Homo sapiens: one gene and its partners. The protein of the gene in region 2 interacts with the protein of the main gene of each other region in a pairwise test. Each region holds a gene or a part of one and is shown on either strand. Other genes may lie near its edges.

Region 1 (7,034 bases), on a different chromosome or scaffold from region 2:
TTTGAGCTTTAATTTCCACATTTTCAAATTGGGATAATTGCATTTACTCCTTGCCTCATAGAGACATTTTTAGGATTAAAAAAGGCAATGTACAAAAGCACTAAGCATGGGCTCTGGCACATTCTGTCACCCTAAAGGAGGAACAAACACTGTTCTCAAGGGCCACCACCCACAGATGTGTACTCACACTTAGCATGAGCAGAGAAGCAGCATGAATCATCCAAACAGCCACCCAAATTGCTGTGTCCAAAATGGCGGTGCCGTTGGTCAGCCCAGCCTTCTCTCTTGCCCATCTGGGCATATCCTTCACTCTTAGCCACCCTTGAGTCTTTTCTGCTAGCAGCCCCTTAAACATTCACCCCAGCTTCTAATGCAATGCTAGACTCAAAGCAGAGTCTAACTAATAATTTTGGAAAGAAAGAAAACCCATCCCAGACATATCACTGAGCAATGAGCGTTCAACATGTGGTGATAAAGCCAGTCAAGGACCCTGAGGAATTCATGATGGTGGCCATAGACCTCAAGACCACAGCATAAAACGGGGCTCAGATCCACAGAGCTTAACTCCAATGAGCTGGTAGCTTTCACACATCCCAGTACAGAAAAATAACTCCAGTGAGTTTTAAATGCAGATTTCTGAGCCTCCCATTGTGAGTCTGATTTACTCAGACTGGGGTGTGGCCCAGGAATCTGCATTTCTAACCAGCTCCTTCAGGTGTTCCTGGCTGCAGGTGGTTAGGACAGATCTAAGTCAAGTAGAATAGGCAATTTGCTTAAGTGAGGGTTGCACCAGCATTACAGACTGAAAGGTCACAAGAATTCTCATCCTGATTTTGTCACTGATGGGCACTTTGAAACCAGACAGCTCTCTTATCCTCTTTGAGACCCAGACTTTTCACGAGTGAAAAAGAGGGAGTCGGGCTCCATGATCTTAAAGGCACCTTCCAACATTGAAAAGTCAATGAAATATACCTGTAAAATAGAAATAATATGTGCCCTGCTTAGTTCACAACACTGTTGTGAGGATTAAATGAGATAATGAATGCAAAAATATTTTTAAAACCAACAGTGCCAAAGAACCATAAGGTATTATTATCAAGAAGAGTAGATTTCACTAATGCAAGAATTATAAGATGTATTCAAAAAGAAGTGAGCAAGTAGAATGCACACTAGAGAAGAGGTGATGATTGCAGCCATGAATTTAAGTAAACAGATCATGATAGCTACTTCCAAATACACCAAAAGTACTTCATCCAAGTATATCAAAATGCTCTCCAGATATCAATTCCTTATGTCTTAGGTTACTTTCACAACCGTACAGATAGAGAAAATAAAAAACAAGTCAGGCTAACTACATTATATATATATGTGTGGGTGTATGTAGAGAGAGAAACACAATTTGCATGGTATATAAAGTTGGTTAGAATTCTTTAAAACTTAAAGAGCTAGATAAATAGAAGATGCAGTTCTATGCCATTAACTTTGCAATAAGCACATGTCATTAACTTTGTAAGGATACGCTCAATCTTCCAGATAGCAAGGGTATGAGGGCATTCTGCAAGCGGAATTTTATTTAGTTTAAAAAAGTTCAGCCTCCCTGGTTTTCACATTTCTCAACTGGGAAAGCAGATTGGCTCCTGTAGCTGTCTGTGATCAGAATGAACCTCACTGTGGATAACCTAGACCATTTTCTGATAGGTTTAAGGTCCTGAGATCCAGGATTTCTGGGAAGACTGGTCAAAGCCAAAGACGTGAATGTTTTGTTGTGGTGGTGGTTTTTGTTGTTGTTGTTGTTGTTGTTTTGAGACGGAGTCTCACTCTGTCGCCCAGGCTGGAGTGCAGTGGTACGATTTCGGCTCACTGCAACCTCCGCCTTCCGGGTTCAAGCAATTCTCCTGCCTCAGCCTCCAGAGTAGCTGGGACTACAGGCGCGTGCCACCACGCCTGGCTAATTTTTTGTATTTTAGTAGAGACGGGGTTTCATCATGTTGGCCAGGATGGTCTCGATCTCTTGACCTTGTGATCTGCCTGCCTCTGCCTCCCAAAGTGCTAGGATTATAGGCATGAGCCACCGTGCCTGGCAGGAGTGAATCTTAAGAGGTTCTCTCCATCCTTGCACTAGAACTAATACTTTATCTCAGCAGGATTTGACTCCAGAAGCTATCAACATGGAAAAATGTGGTTTTAGTCAACATGTGCATCCCAGTCCTGAGAAGAAAATGGAAGAAGGAAACAAATATTAAGCCTCAATTTCATGCTAGGCCGTGAGCTGAGCATTCTACCTACTAAATTCATTTTATCCTCACCACACTGACATGTAAGATATTATTACTATTCTTATTTTACAGATGGAGAAACTGAAACTCAGAGATGTTAAATAACCAGCACTAGCTCCTTCACTAAGACACAAACCCACTTCTGGCTCCCTGACCTTCTATGTGTGAAGTACACACATGGGAAACCACCATGGATTTATCAAAAGTCCTGCAGTACTTTGGGGAACATGATATCTTTTCCTTCAATTTATATGATGGAAAATTTCAAACATACACAAAAAGAGAGAGAATAGTCTAATAAATGTCCATGTACCCATCACTCAGCTTCACCAAGTATCAAATCAAGGCCACACTTGTTTCACCAGGCCTCAACCTGATTCCACAACCACTCCCCTACCGCTAGGTTATCTTAAAGCAAAGTGACATTGTGTCATCTTATCCACAAATATATAAATATGTGCCTCTTTAACAGAATCACAATACCATTATCACCCTTTAACATTTAACAATTATCCCTCAATATCTGCGAATACTGAGCCCATGTTCAAATTTCCCCAATTCTCATTTCTTTTTAACGATCGTTTTGTTTCAGCCAGAGAGACAATCTTCTTGATCCAACTAAGGGTCCAAAGAGGAATCATGGATGCTTTCTACCTGTCCATATTTGGCCATGATGGCTTTTAACCCATGGCATTCAGCTGCCTGTGTTCTACATCCACCTTCCACACTGGGTACCCAAGGAACATTCTGTCATCCCCTCAACAGAAATACACTAAACAAAACCTTAACATATGGTGGATCCCTAGCCACGGACAACCTGGGTGTTTGTGCCCTGGTCTTTATTCACACATTCAGGTGATCTTGCTCATATCCACTCACTTTCTGACCTTAGTTTCCACTTCTGTAAAATGAAGGGTAAGAGTCATTATCTCTAAGTGCTCTCTTGGCCTAACTGTCTCTGGTCCAGTGGATTTGCATTTGTAAATTGGCACCACTATGGCCCCAGCAGCCCTCTTTTACCAACCTAGTTGGCATCTCGTCCTCTCCCCTAAATGGCCAACTCTTCCCAAGCAGGCTTTGTGCCTTCTCTTGTTCCATGCCCACAGCACCTAATCCAGGAAATGCTGATGGACAAATAAGTCCCCTTTACTTTCTCAACAGGAAACCAAATTCTTCTCCAATGACTGAGTCCTATTATCTTTCCTCCTATCCTCAGACAGGACCAAGAAAGTGGTCAAGTGCAGTGTTTCCTCATGGCTTAATTTCTTAGAACATTTAAAAATTTTTCAGTAGTCATATACTTATTTTAATGAGTAATGGGAAAACATACCTATATTAAATATACAGGCATTTTTAGACATGACAAGGATCATGATTGAACTTCAGGAAAACATTGATCCAGAACAAACTTGTTTTTTCCTGTAGCATTTCTCTGATTCTGATCAGAGCTAGCTGGATTTAATCCTTAAAGGAAAGCTCTTGGCCTTGTGAAAATTCTTCACCCTAGTCATGTACCCACTCAGGATGTTATTGCACCAATTTTTCCCCTACATTAGTGTCAGTGAATCAACTAACATTAATTTGGCACGTACTGTGTTCCAAGCTCACAGACCCTGCCCTCAGGGAATTTCCAGTTGATTTGAAGAATCAGTGAATAGCACCAATTACTTCTTGATGCAAATGAGAGAAGTCAAAATGCAGGAAGCATTAACGCAGGCAGCAAGGTGTGGGGAATAGGGGACTAGAAATGATAACATCTCCAGAGAATTCTGGCTCTGCACTATATGAGTGCATGACCTTTACAAAGTCACTTCATTTCTGTGCCTTAGTTCCTAGAAAATGTGGATGTTGACATGAATGAATCAGGGCCAACCCATATATTTTTGAAATGCCCAACTCTAAAAGGCGCTATTCACTGTTACTGCAGGGCACAACCTGTACAACCCTCTATAACGACCTCACCAACATCTGCCCTACTTCTCTCAGAGGGTTTGTTGTTCAGAAATAAAAGGAGACTCGGAACATTTTCTTTGTTTATAAAGAGCTGCAGACATACAAGAAGGGCTTTTAGAAGAGACATTGCTTAGCATTTCTTTAGAGAAAGATTATATAGAACAAGAAAAAAAATAACACTGAGTGACTATAATGTGTCAGGTTATATGCTAATTGATTTCTGTATTCATATGTAATATCTTACCCAAAGAACTGGCATGATTCTGCATAAGATTACATAGCTGATAAAGGAGTGGAACCAGGGTTTAAAATGAGGATATTTGACTCCAAACTCCATGTTTATTCTAGCACTTCACAATGCTCAGACATTTTATTTTGCATGTGCTAATATCATTACTTTGCAATGGTTCTCTTACAACCAGGCCTGTCCTCTCCCCATATGAGTAAGTTGCAATTATCTAAGCACAGTGACCTATCCCTTGTTTTTGTGACATCCCAAGTCTTGGGAATTAGAAAGCAAATTTCACATGTGGTGGAGGCTTAATGAGTCCTTGGCAATAACTGAATCAACCAAAATACACTGAAAGATTGGGAGGAAATACTAGGTTGAACCATAAGAAACTGTTAACATTTTACCATTTTTGGCCTACAAAAATGGCCATTTCTTTTGCCTTAATATAGTTAGTGTATTTGATAAGCTATATCCTCATTTCCATTCATATTTTAAGACTTTAAAATAGTCCCAGGGCAAAGCTGTTATGGTATGATGTAAAATCTATAAGCATGGAGTTTTCCTCACGTGAATTCCACAAACCCCTAGGTTCATCCATGTACTCCCTTAGAGGAAGCTCCCACCACCCCCTGCACACAAGCACGCTAGTGGTCCCTTTCATCATCTTGAATATATAATCCAACGAGGGTAAACGCCCTAAATTTCCAGTAACTTTGGGCTCAAAAGTCCTTCCTTTGACTGCTCTTGAGAAAGTCATTTTGCCTCTCAGAATGTCACCTCTAAAATAAGCCTAAACATGGCTGCTCTGCCTACTTCCTGGGGTTGCCAGAGGACAAGAAAGTGGTAGCCAAGCTGTCATAAAGACTAAACAGATGGTCAGTTCTACTGGTAAGGTTTAAACATACCCAGCCTAAAGCGCTATGCAACGTGGAGTATATTTCTTTACAAAAGGGCTACCCAAAAACTAAGCATCTGAGCTCAGCGAACATATGCAGTTCCAGGATTCCAGACCTCCTTGGCCTATGTTAGAAGCCAGTTCCTTCTCAGTAGGACTCCTCGACCAGTGGTATCACTGGATTGGTTTCATGGGCCAAGCTAACCTGCCCTGATATCCTTTAGCCCTTGACAAGAGGTCTATGCCAATACAAAGCCCCAAGAACACCCCAGTAATGTTCTCCTAAGCCTGGGAGGTACAGCCTGTGTAGCATGGTGCAACTGACCATGAAAATAAAAGATTGTCTCTTTTCTGGTCTCTAGGAAATGCCCTCACATAGAGATCCAGTAGGTAGGAAAGAAAAAGGTTGGCTTCTTCATGGAGGAATGAGATATGAAGCTGATGCAGAAGGGGAATAAGTTGGTCATGGGCTCATCATGCCTTCCTGTCGGGTGCTAGAAAGGTGCCAAGAGACTCTGTCCTCAGGGGAAATGTGCTCATAGCTGTAACCCAATGATGCATTAGTGACAGGGATCCAGGAAGGGCCATGGGCACGAACATCGCCCTCACAGAAGCCTGAAGTCCCATCTGTGGATTGGAATTCTTCCTTAGCATTAGGTCTGGTGCCCTCCTTGGTAAATATAAGTGGTCCTGGAAGGAAAATGCCTGAAATCTGCCAACAACTGTGTCTTTGTCAGATCACCAACCTGGTGGCAAGTGAAGAACATGGGGGAAGGGGACAATTGAAAGAAGGGAGGCAAAATGCAAAGGCCAAAGGGCAAAAGGAAAAGGGGAAGTGAAAGGACCAAAATCTCTTACTAGTGCTACAGGACTTGTAGCAACAGGTCTCTCTGGGTGGGACCTTCTGGGATAGAATTACTGGGGGTGTGGTTTCCCATCCAAAGAGTTTGGGGATGGGATTGAACAGCAACTAGCCAGGCTTAGCTGACACACACTGATGTCTCTCCACCCCTGGAAAAATGTGGCTACCACAGCCCAGAAGAGATGTCCAAACACTGCTGATAGAGTCCAAGCCTGCTGACCAAGTTTCTTAAACACCAACTTTGCCAACATTACTGAGGGTTACTATCAGAGAACATTCAGCCATCTGAGGTACTATTAAAGCATGTGAAGTTGAGAGGACCCAGGATTCTGGAAGGAAAAGCCAAATATGATACTGATTTTCATATGAGATGACAAGGCTGAGTCTCATTATCATTATTTTAAATTAATTCAGCTCCCTGGTACCATGGCAAAGTCAATGGTGGTTTTAATAAATACTAACAGGTAAAAGGATAATTCACAAGGTAAATGTGATTGATGTTGACAGAATTACAACGTTAACAGCAAAGAGGATAAAGAAGATGTCATATGTAGTATGTTTGCATACTGTTTAACAGAGACTCTCCTGAAATCTTCCTGGGAATTCAAATTGGCGGGTGCTGTCAGCAGGAATTCACTGCTTCTGAGTAACAAGCACAAACAAAGGGGAAGGAGAAAAGGCAACTGGGAAGGATGAAGGAGGCACCGGAGGGTGCTATTGGAGCTCAGTCTGACCTGGTGTAGCTCTTTCATTAATGATCTAGGAGTAAACAATGCCTTAATGAAATTCACAGAGCACGTTCATTGGGGAAACGCG
Region 2 (4,656 bases):
CCAGGGGGCCATTTGGCATCAGGAACACAGGGATTAGCTGCACGGCCAGACCCCAGACCCCCGCCCAGGGGTCCCTCTTTGCTCTCCTGGCCAGCCCCACCCCACAGGCACCAACTTGGGCCAATGCCAGGCCACAGGTCAGACTCCCAGGCCTGGGACTCCTCTGCCCACCCACAACAACCACTGATGCTCCTCAGCAAGAGCCAACTTCTGGCTCTGAACGCAGCAGCACCCAGGATACAGCAAGGTGAATGCTAGGCACTCGTCCCACAGCCTGGGGTGTAGGGGAGGTCAGAGATACACACAAATCAAACTCTCTCCTCACTATATATATATATATATATATATATATATACACACACACACACACACACACACACACACACACATACACACAAGCACACCCCACCCACACTCATTAGGCCTGGAGGGGGGACTTCAGTTCTCCATCTTTGGCATCAATCTATCAAAGTCAGCTTTTCTGTACGAGACTGCTCGCTCCTTTCTGTACATGAATTAAATATATTATCTGTCTCTGCACTGAGTCACACGACGTTCACAGTACCGTGGGGAGGAGTGGAGGGTGGGGGCCTGAGGTGGGCAGGGCAGGGGGCCTGGGTAGAAAGGCGAGGCTGGCCTCCCCTTGGCCTGTGCCATTCAGGATCAGCCCAGTGTTGAGGAGACCTGGGGGATACAGAGGGGAGCCTTCTTCAGGGGCCCCGGCCACCCAGGCTTCCAGCCCCCGGAGGCAAGCCTCTCAGCATCAGAGCCTGCTCCTGTTCCACGTTCCTCTCCCTCAGATGGTGGCATCTACACCTCTCCCTGTCGTGGCCGCCCTCTGGGGTGGCAGGGGCTGGGGGAAGCTGGTATTGGGATCAGGTGGACAGAGCCACAAGGGCTGGGAAGGAAGGATGGGGAGGCTGTGCGAGCCTTCGGGAGCTGAGGTCAGCCTGGCACCAGTGTCAGGGTGACTCTGCATATCTGGGTGCCGTCCCCAGGACCCTGACCAGGCCTGGCTAATCAGAGCCCTGGGATGATAAGGTAAGCAGGAGCCACCTCGGGAAGGGGTGGACAGGCAGGAGCCGGTCACAGCTCCAAGGGCAGTGAGTACGGTACCACCTGCCAATTTAAGGCAACTCCATTCAGACTGATGAGCTGGGCGGGGGCTGGCTGAGGTGGCAGGCGTGCAACTGGCGGTCCCAGGCCACCTCTGGACACAGCTGGGCATCCAAGCATGCCAGCAAAGCGTATGCCGGCACTGCTCAGCCATGGTTCAAGCCAGAGGGTGTCGGGGAATGAGGGTAGGGTAGGGCTGATGGAAAGAGTGGGGACTACTATTCCTTCTGTTGCTGTGGGACACCTGCCAGGTGGGGTAGGCTTTGGCACACATGTGGGTACCTAGGATTCCAGGGTCCCAGAGAACATGCCATGTCTCTTCTTGCTCTCAGAGGGGAAAAAGATGAAACGTGTGTGGGCTCCAAGGGGCCAGAAAGGGGGACTACCAAACTGGCACTAGGCAGGTCCTGGGGGAGGAGGGTAGAGCCTGTATCCAGGGCAGAGTGCCCATCCTGGCGCCTTGATTCTGTCATCCGTGTGCATCCCACGCAGGTGCCCAAACACCAGGGTGGGAGAGGGTACGAGGACCGCCCCCCCCTCATGTCCTCTCAGGGAAGCAGCTTATGCCAGCCCCAACGTGGGTAAAGGAGGGGTTGGTATGCAGGTGAGGGCTACTGGGGAGGCACACGGGAAGCACAAAGAAGAAACAGCCGTGGCCAGAAGGGCTGCCAAGCGGTCTTCCAGGCTGGCTGTCAGCCCTCGTTCTTCAGTCCTCCGAGGGCCACACAGGCTCCATCCTACCCGAATTTGTGCTCCATGTGATCTCTTGTCCCTTGGCCACAGCAAGGTGGGCGTGGCTCAGAAGATGCTCTGCCGCCTGTTCTTCCCTCGTCCTGGAGAATGGAGAAGAGGTGGGGCTGCAGGGAGGAGGCTGGGCTGACGGGTACCCCAGGTCAGCAGGGACAGTCGCTGTCCCCCAGAGCTGCTCTGACAGAGCAAGCAAGGGCATGCAAACAGGAGCCGGTCTGACCTGGTGTCAAATCCCATCTCTGCTACTTACTAGCTGCATGAACTTGTGACTTAACCTCCCAGAGCCTCAGTTTCATTGACTATGAAATGGGGAATATTAATAGTACTAGCTTCAAGGGGTATTTTAAGGATTAAAGAAGACGATGCATGGAAAGCATTTGTCAATGTCCAAGGCCATTGACTGTTCTAGGAACAAAGTACCGTTCTCCCAGGATGGAATCTGATTAGAGAGCTCAGGGTTTGCAGAGAGAATGCACCAGAGACAGCATGCCTCTTTGCCAGGGCTACTGTCAAATGCAATGTCCTGTCTGGGGTGGAGGGTTGAGGAGGGAAGAGCTGGACGAGGAAGTCTAGGCAGGAGAAACCAACCCCTTCTCTGCTCCCCAAAGAGTCCAAAGGGAAGCCAGTGGTGGGGGGACCATGGGAGTCCCCACTGGGGAGGGGTCGCCTGCTCTGGCTTCCACTAACAAGGGGAGGGGTCCAGGAGAGCACAAGCCCCTACCTGGCTGCTGGAAGGCCAAGCCTCGGTAGCCTGGGTCCTTCTGGAGCTGGATCTCCTTCAGGGAGAAGATGGAGGCAGCTGGGGGAGAGAAGTGCATAGTCTGGAGAGGGCTGCGTGGAGCTGGCCTCCAGTAAGGACTGGCCCAGAAGGACCAACTGAGCCCTCGAGGCAGCGTCTCATTTCCACTGTTTGCCCCCTCAATTTGGAATGAGAACCCCAGCAGGGGAGGCAAGGTGCCCGGGGCTGCTCTGCTGGGGCTGGGGCCTCTGGCCTCTTTGTTCTGGTTCTTCTGCCCACACTCACCAACCCCTTTCCTTGGTTCTGGGTGGCCCTGCTCCCGGACCCCCAGTACTCACTGTCTTCAAGCTGGTGCACACGCTCTCCCAGAGACCGGAAGTAGGAGTGACTCAGGGCAGCCTCTGCTGACATGCGACTCTTGGATTCATACTGAAAGGCACAGGGTGGGGCTATTGGGCCCGGCTGGGGGGCTGCAAACCCTCTGGGCAGCAGGACTCCAGTGCTGGTTAGAGCACCAAGGTGGGTGAGGCTTGAGGCTAACAGGAGAAGCCCCAGGTCAGCCTCCAGCCCCTACCACAAACCCAACCTCAGGCCATCTCAAGACTCAGGGGAAGGCTCCTCGGTCTCCAGCCACCAGGAAAAACCAGAAATGAAACTTCAGGAGAGTGACCTTCTCTTGGGATAGAAATACAGATGCAAACCAACCATGATCAGATGGAGAACATCCGTAACAGGAAGCGTAGTGCCGATAACAACCCTTCATCGTGTGCCTTACAAGACAGGCACCACACTAAGTGTGTCCCGTCATCTCAATGTATCCTCACGGCCATCTTATAAAATAGGTATTAATCCCACTTTGCAGCTGAGGAAACTGAGGCATGGAGGAGCTCTGTAACTTGCCCAGAGCTACACAGCTAAGTAACGGGTTTGGGCTCGCAGTGCACAGACTCCAGAGGATGTGTATGGAGGCCACCCCTTGGCCTTGGGGGTGGAGAGTACAGGGGAGATGTTTCAAAGACGTGTAAGCACACGAGCCACAGAAGTTGGGGCGTAGGCCCGGCATGGGGCACAGGGACCTGGCTCTTTGGCTGCCTCTCCCTGGGCCCCGCCGGGAGGACACTCACCAGGAGCAGGCTGCTCAGGAGGTGGATGCCATCCGTATCCAACCTGCAAGGAGAAGGCGCGGACACAGGCTGTGCCTGATTGGGGATGGGAGAGCCAGGGCCGCAGCAGGAGGGGCGGCGGGCGCAGGGGCTACCTGGGCGCGTGGTTGATGAGCGGCTGCGGGAGGTAGCAGGGGAAGCTGTAGGTGCGGAACTCAGAGAAGGCGGTCACGCCGGGCCACGTCTCTTCTGTGGGGGTCCCTGGGGAGACGAGAGAGGGTGGGGAGGGCCTGCGTGAGGCCCAGGGCCAAGGCCGACTTGAAAGGGATGCAATGTATGAGGTGGGAGCAAAGATGGCCGAGGCCACAGGGGGTCCCCGCCCGGGAGAGAGGCGGCCGAGCCGCTCCTCCCCGTCCCGCTCCGCGCCTGGGCTGGAGGAGTTCCGGCGCCCCCTGGTGGTGAGAGGGACGGAGCAGCGGGAGACTGACCGAGGAGGCGAAAGATGAGGTGCAGCTCCTCCTTGACTGTGGAGCCCGGGAAGAGGGGCCTCCCTGTGGCCATCTCGTAGTGGATGCAGCCCACGCCCCTGCGAGGAGCAAGGGGTAGGGTCGGCATCAGGCAGGGGCGGCCGCCCTTCCTAGGGCTGCTCCACCAGGGCACCAATGACGACCTGCCACAGGCGGCTGCAGGGATCGTGGCTCTGGCGGCGGAGGGGTGGCCCAGGGCAGTGGAGGCTCCTAGAACTGCCCAGCCCCCACTACAGCCCCTCTCTGGGGGGCTTCCCTGGGCTCGGGAAAGCTGCGACTTTCACTCTGTGAGGAAAGTCCCCTTTCACTCTGTGAGGTTTGGGTCTGTGCAGCCAGCGCCCATGTGGCAATTCTCTCAGCAGTGTTGTCTCAAACTCTCTCCACTGTGTGCCCCACTGGAAGAGAAGTACATAAATCCATT
Region 3 (7,034 bases), on a different chromosome or scaffold from region 2:
TGTATTGATAGCCTTTTCTTTTGGAGATGGGGGTCTCACTCTGTCACTCAGGCTGGAGTGCAGTGGCACAATCACAGCTCACTGCAGCCTCAAGCTCCTGGGCTCATGCCATCCTCCTGCCTCAGCCCCTGAGTAGCTGGGACAACAGGTGCATGCCACCATGCCTTGCCGAGTTTTTGTATAGATGGGGTTTCACCATGTTGCCCAGGCTGGTCTTGAACTCTGGACTGGTCTGGACTTGAGATTCAGACCAGATCTGTAAGCCACTGCACCCGGCCTTGATAGCCATTTGTTTTCATACACAGCAGCAATTAGTAGCCATTTAAGATATCTGTGCGCCAGCCTACAAGAAATACAAATGTACAGGGTAAAATCCTAGCTGGATCAAATATGAGCTTTGTAAATTTTTAAAAACTTTTTTATTGAGTTGTGGTTTATGCCTGTAATCCCAGCACTTTGAGAGGCTGAGGCAGGAGGATCCCTTGAGGCCAGGAGTTTGGCACCAGCCTGAGCAACACAGTGGGACCCTGTCTACACACACACCCCACCCCCACACACCCCAATTCACATACCACAAACAAAAAAACTCCTAGAAATCACCTTGGCTCAGGCAGCTTCTTCAGATTCCTGAGACCCCATTTCCTGGATCATCACAACCATCTCACAGGATGCAATGAAAAGAGCTGTTAAGCACTTTGTAGACTTGGCTACAAATCTGTGCAGATTTGGTTGCAAAATGTTACTACCCTGACAAGAAGCCATGAACGCAGCCGGCACTGACTCAATATACTTCTGCCAAGGTCCCACCATCAAAACTGTCTTATTGAAGTTAACTTAAGGAAATTGTTATTTCTAAACTTCATATGGTAAATGAAAAATACTGAACAAGGCAAATAAAACAAGATAAATGAATTCCAGAAATTAACATTCAGTCAGTCCTAGGTATTGTTACTTTTTAGAGCATTAAGATACATTGCTATATTGTTGATTTAGCCAAGCTAAGATCCCTATAGTCAATCAAAATAGTTAAATAATTTTTTGTTTTTCCCAAAAATCATTATTTTTTGTTTTAGGATGTTGGCAAACACTGTAATGTGTTTTTTTTTTTTTTTGAGACAGAGTTTCGCTCTTGTCGCCCAGGCTGGAGTGCAATGACACAGTCTCGGCTTACCACAACCCCCGCCTCCCAGGTTCAAGCGATTCTCCTACCTCAGCCTCCCAAGTAGCTGGGATTACAGGCATGCGCCACTAGGCCTAGCTAATTTTTTGTATTTTTAGTAGAGATGGGGTTTCTCCATGTTGGTCAGACTGGTCTTGAACTCCAGCCTCAGGTGACCCACCCACCTTGGCCTCCCAAAGTGCTGGGATTTATAAGCATGAGCCACCATGCCCAGCCTGTAATGTAATTTATAAATACAGTAATGTAATTTATAAATAAAATGTCAACACAGAATACTAATTTCTTGTAGAAAATGTAGAAAATAGGCTGGGTGTGGTGGCTCACGCCTGTAATCCCAGCACTTTCGGAGGCCAAGGCAGGCGGATCACTTGAGGTCAGGAGTTCAAGATCAGCCTGGCTAACATGGTAAAACCCCGTCTCTACTAAAAATACAAAAATTAGCTGGGCGTGGTGGCACATGCCTGTAATCCGAGTTACTCGGGAGGCTGAGGCAGGAGAATTGCTTGAACCGGGAGGCGGAGGTTGCAGTGAACCGAGATCACACCACTGCACTCCAACCTGGGTGACAGAGCAAGACTCCATCTCAAAAGAAGAAAAAGAAAATGTAGAAAATATTTGATTTAAGTGACCTCCTAAAATTTAGAAATACCTAGGAAACATACAACTTCTCAAGATGCAGCAAAATTTACAAAATCATTTTTCAAAGTATCTCGATATAAACAACTCTCAGTTCCAATTTCAACTGGCTTGTCTTTAAAATATGATACTTGATGGCAAAGAATGGGATCTTTTAAGAGTTCTATAGTTTGGATCTATTTGAGAGTGCTGGATTGAACAAATGCAGCCCACAGAATTTAAAATGCAGACACTTGAATGTATAGGATCACCCAAAACAGAGAATTCTGAAGTCTTACGCCAGGGGTTGTTGAAAGGGAAATTCTCTTTTATAGGATTTTTTTCTTTATTCTCGTTTGAAGCAGTGTCTTTGTCTTCCAATGCCCGAGCAAGCATGTAGCTAACTTTTCTTTGATGAGCCAAAGCTTCTTCTTTATCATTAAGCTGCATGCACAGAAATTAAACATGTACAAGTTAGTCAATAAATCACAGAATATATTCAGAGAAAGGAGTATTGTACTATTTTATCAAGTTATTCAACCCTAATATTCATACTGATCTGTCCATCAGTATGAATAAATTAGGTATCACCTGATCCCCAAACATTATACTACATGTTATTCATGAATCTTTTTTTTTTTTTTTTTGAGACGGAGTCTGGCTCTGTCACCCAGGCTGGAGTGCAGTGGCACTATCTCCACTCACTGCAAGCTCTGCCTCCCAGGTTCACACTATTCTCCTGCCTCAGCCTCCCAAGTAGCTGGGACCACAGGTGCCCGCCACCACACCCAGCTAATTTTTTGCATTTTTTAGTAGAGACGGGGTTTCACTGTGTTTGCCAGGATGGTCTGAATCTCCTGACCTTGTGATCAGCCCACCTTGGCCTCCCAAAGTGCTGGGATTACAGGCGTGAGCCACCGTGCCCGGCCAATTCTTTTTTTTTTTAAGACAGGGTCTGGCTCTGTTGCCCAGGCTGGAATGCAGTGATGCCATCTTGGCTCACTGCAGCCTCTGCCTCCCAGGCTCAAGTGATTCTTGGGCCTCACCCTCCCGAGTAGAGTAGCTGGGACTATAGGCGTGCACCACCACACCTTGCTAATTTTTGTAGGCTGGTCTCGAACTCCTGGCCTCAAGTGATCCACTCGCCTCGGCCTCCCAAAGTGCTGGAATTACAGATGTGTGCCACCATGCCAGGCTGACAATTTTTTTTTTTTTTTGAGACAGAGTCTCGCTCTGTCACCCAGGTTGGAGTGCAGTTGCATGATCTTGGCTCACTGCAAGCTCCGCTCTCCTGGGTTCACACCATTCTCCTGTCTCAGCCTCCCATGTAGCTAGGGACTACAGGTGCCAGCCACCACACCTGGCTAATTTTTTGTATTTTTAGTAGAGACAGTTTCACCGTGTTAGTCAGGATGGTCTCGATCTCCTGACCTCATGATCCACCCGCCTCGGCTTCCCAAAGTGCTGGGATTACAGGCATGAGCCACTGTGCCCAGCCCCGACGATTATTTTTTAAAAATAATTTTTTAAAAAAAAAAACAGAAGACAGCATTGAAAATTTTGCAAGTCATCTGGAAATGAAGGGAAAATATAGATCTATATGAAGTGTGTATATATAGGTATATAATATCAACATATAAAAAATATATCAACGTGCATATTTATAAAATAATGTTGAAGTTATTTGTATATAAAATTGCTTTCATATATTTGTATGCAAATATATAACAGTCTAGAGATAAGTATGTTCATATAACCTGAGTCTCAGTGTCTTAGTTTAGTCATTCCATGTGGAATGTGGGTAGCAGGACTGTAAAGGATATAATGTGTGAGGAAATGCCTTGAACACTTTAAAAATGCCTCAATAAACAGGCAGACTTGTCACAAACTGTATATATATAAATGTAGATGGCAAAGCTGGCTGGAGTTAACTACAGGAGCCCCCTGTTTTCCAAGATGGAGCCTTTAAACCTGCACAGAAAGAATATGAATGACGAGAAAAGATGAGCTGAGGGAGATAAAGATCATGAAGGTAGAGTCTGGTACTCCAACTGGGAAAAGGACATAGAAGGCAAGTGCAAGTCTAGAGAGATAAAGAGTTGAATTAACAGGAAGCAAATAGATTAGCTTAACCTAGGGGTGTCCAATCTTTTGGCTTCCCTGGGCCACACTGGAAGAAGAAGAATTGTCTTGGGCCACACATAAAATACACTAACACTGGCTGGGCATGGTGGGTCACGCCTGTAATCCCAGCACTTTGGGATGCCGAGGTGGGCAGATCACTTGAGGTCAGGAGTTTGAGACCAGCCTGGCCAACATGGTGAAATCCTGTCTCTACTAAAAACGCACACACAAAATTAGCCAGGCGTGGTGGTGGGCGCCTGCAGTCCCAGCTACTCTAGAGGCTGAGGCAGGAGAATTGCTTGAACCCGGGAGGTGGAGGTTGCAGTGAGCCGAGATCGCGCCGCTGCACTCCAGCCTGGGTGACAGAGACTCTGTCTCAAAAACCAAACAAACAAAAAAACCAAAAAACAAACAAAACAAAAAAATACACTAACACTAATGATAGCTGATGAACTAAAAAAATATATATATATATCAAAAAGATCTCATAATGTTTTAAGAAAGTTTACGAATTTGTGTTGGGCCACATTCAAAGCTGTTCTGGGCTGCATGCTCCCCACGGACCGTGGGTTGGACAAGCTTGGCTTAACCATAACCTGCAAAAAAAAGCAAAGACACTAACCAAATCTATGAGCATCTTAAGGACCTCTTGAGGACTGTCCTGGTCTTCCATCCTCTTAGAACTGTTTTCTGAAGGGAGCATACCCAACAGTCTCTGCCCGAAGGTCTTCTTACTCCTTGGTGATGGAAATCCTAAAATTGAACATGAGAATCCAGCTGAGACATTAAAATATCCTCACTGATATACTTCCAGCAAAAGAGGTAACTTGATCTCTAGGACAAGTGAGTCCAGGAGCACACAGTGGAATGTAGTGAGCAGAGCACAGCCTTCAGAGCCAGGAGCAATGCAGGTGAGAGGCAGCAAGAGTGCCGCCCTGCCATGCGGCACAGCCACCCCTCTGTGCCAGCTGACACACAGGCCACACAAGAACACAGTCCATGTCACTGGATCATCACAGTCTTCAAGAGCAGCCAGAAATGCAGATCTGTCATGACATCTTCCAATTCTAAATGTCAGCCACTAGTCTTATTGTTTGACTACACTAAGCCAACCTAACAAAACATGTCTGCAGGCCACAGGGGGCCTCTGAGCCATGCAAACTCTGCTTCCGAACAGCAAAGACCTGGACTTGAATCCTCATTCAGCCACTTACTAACTGTATGACCTCGGGTGACTTTTCTCAGCTTGATTTCCTCATCTCTAAAATGAGAATAGCATTACCTTCTTCTCAGGGAACTGTGCCATTAAATAATAAATCACACGGGCTGGAGAAGGGGAAGTGAGGAGTTACTGTTTCATGGGACAGGGTCTCTGTAAAGAAAGATGAAAATGTTCTGGAGCTGGATGGTGATGAAGGTTACATTACAATGTGAATATACTTAATACCACTTAAAAACAGTTCAAATGGTAAACTATATATATATATATATATATATATATATATATATATATATATATAATTTTTTTTTTTTTTTAGATGGAGTCTTGTTCTGTCACCCAGGCTGGAGTGCAGTGGCGCAATCTCGGCTCACTGCAAGCTCCGCCTCCCGGGTTCGCGCCATTCTCCTGCCTCAGCCTCCCGAGTAGCTGGGACTACAGGCGCCCGCCACCACGTCCGGCTAATTTTTTTGTATTTTTAGTAGAGATGGGGTTTCACTGTGTTAGCCAGGATGGTCTCGATCTCCTGACCTCATGATTCGCCCCCTCTTGGCCTCCCAAAATGCTGGGATTACAGGCGTGAGCCACCGCGCCCGGCCAACTTTAGATATATTTTACCACCATCACGACAACAACAAAAAATACCACAATTGTCAAAGGCCCTGCTCAGGTATTAGCATAATATTTAATATTTCACGTGCTGACATCATTGATGTCCTTCTTCATCCATTGAAGGAAAGTAATTTGCAGAAGTTATAAAATCTCAGATTGTACAAGGAAAATTTCAAGAATGTTTTTGGAATATTCTCCAAAAGTGGTTTAGTGGGAAACTGAGAGCAGATGAGGGGAGATCCCCTTCCCACCAATCCTGACAGACCACAGTGACGAGGGCGGCCCTGACCCCTTCCACGAGGAGCTGTGGCAAACAGAAGTCAGAGAAACTGACACTTTGATGAGTAGATGAATCTGTGTCCCTATTTTCAGTCTAAAAAAAGAAATAGCTTGGTGTGATGGCTCAAGCTGGTAGTCTGGAGGATTGCTTAAGCCCAGGAGTTTAAGATAAAAAAAAAAAAAAAAAAACCCAAAAGCAAAAATACAAAGAAAGAAAGAAGTATGCCTATAAACTACTTCCGGAAACTTGTCTAAACTGCCATATCAAAAAGAAAGTTGATATTAAGTGTTACTAAACATAAAATAATCTGTATCACCCTGTACCTCTTAAGATTACTGAAATATACTAATAAAATGAATTAAAGTCTTGTCACTGAGAAACTGAGAAAGAACTACTCAAACTTGTATAGATTTATAAAAGCTGTGCGAGATTAATCAATTTTTTTTTTTTTTTTTGAGATGGAGTCTCGCTTTTGTCGCCCAGGCTGGAGTGCAACAGCGCAATCTTGGCTCACCACAACCTCTGCCTCCCGGGTTCAAACATTTCTCCTGCCTCAGCCTCCCGAGTAGCTGGGATTACAGGCTTGTGCCACCACACCCAGCCAATTTTGTATTTTTAGTAGAGACAGGGTTTCTCCATGTTGGTCAGGCTGGTCTCAAATTCCCGACCTCAAGTGATCCACCCACCTCAGCCTCCCAAAGTCCTGAGATTACAGGCGTGCCACTGCACCCGGCCATCAGTTTTTGGTGGTTTTTTTTTTTTGAGACAGGGTCTTGCTCCATCACCCAGGCTGGACTGCAGTGGTGGGATCATGACTCACTGCAGCCTCAGCCTCCCAGGCTCAAGCGATCCTCCCACTTCAGCCTCCCTAGTAGCTGAGACCACAGGTATCTACCACCACACTTGGCTATTTTTTTTTTTTTAATAGAGACAGGGTCTCCCTATGTTGCCCAGCCTGGTCTCAAACTCCTGAGCTCAAGCAATCCTCCTGCCTCAGCCTCCCA

Evidence for each region.
Region 1: the proteins of CDK18 (region 2) and CBY2 interact in binary tests that used the Homo sapiens proteins (3 or more experiments, as listed by UniProt).
Region 3: the proteins of CDK18 (region 2) and CCDC125 interact in binary tests that used the Homo sapiens proteins (3 or more experiments, as listed by UniProt).

Annotation. Positions count from the first base shown.
Region 1 is NC_000013.11:45,705,292-45,712,325, reverse strand, and holds part of CBY2 (protein chibby homolog 2), read right to left. Parts: intron 1-7,034.
Region 2 is NC_000001.11:205,528,637-205,533,292, reverse strand, and holds the end of CDK18 (cyclin-dependent kinase 18), read right to left. Parts: intron 4,295-4,656; coding exon 4,197-4,294; intron 3,970-4,196; coding exon 3,864-3,969; intron 3,773-3,863; coding exon 3,730-3,772; coding exon of another isoform or gene 3,520-3,729; exon of another isoform or gene 3,041-3,519; intron 3,035-3,040; coding exon 2,944-3,034; intron 2,666-2,943; coding exon 2,588-2,665; intron 1,950-2,587; coding exon 1,915-1,949; 3' UTR 503-1,914; downstream 1-502. UniProt on the Homo sapiens protein: May play a role in signal transduction cascades in terminally differentiated cells.
Region 3 is NC_000005.10:69,280,796-69,287,829, forward strand, and holds part of CCDC125 (coiled-coil domain-containing protein 125), read right to left. Parts: intron 4,673-7,034; coding exon 4,542-4,672; intron 2,240-4,541; coding exon 1,934-2,239; 3' UTR 344-1,933; coding exon of another isoform or gene 312-343; 3' UTR 1-311. UniProt on the Homo sapiens protein: May be involved in the regulation of cell migration.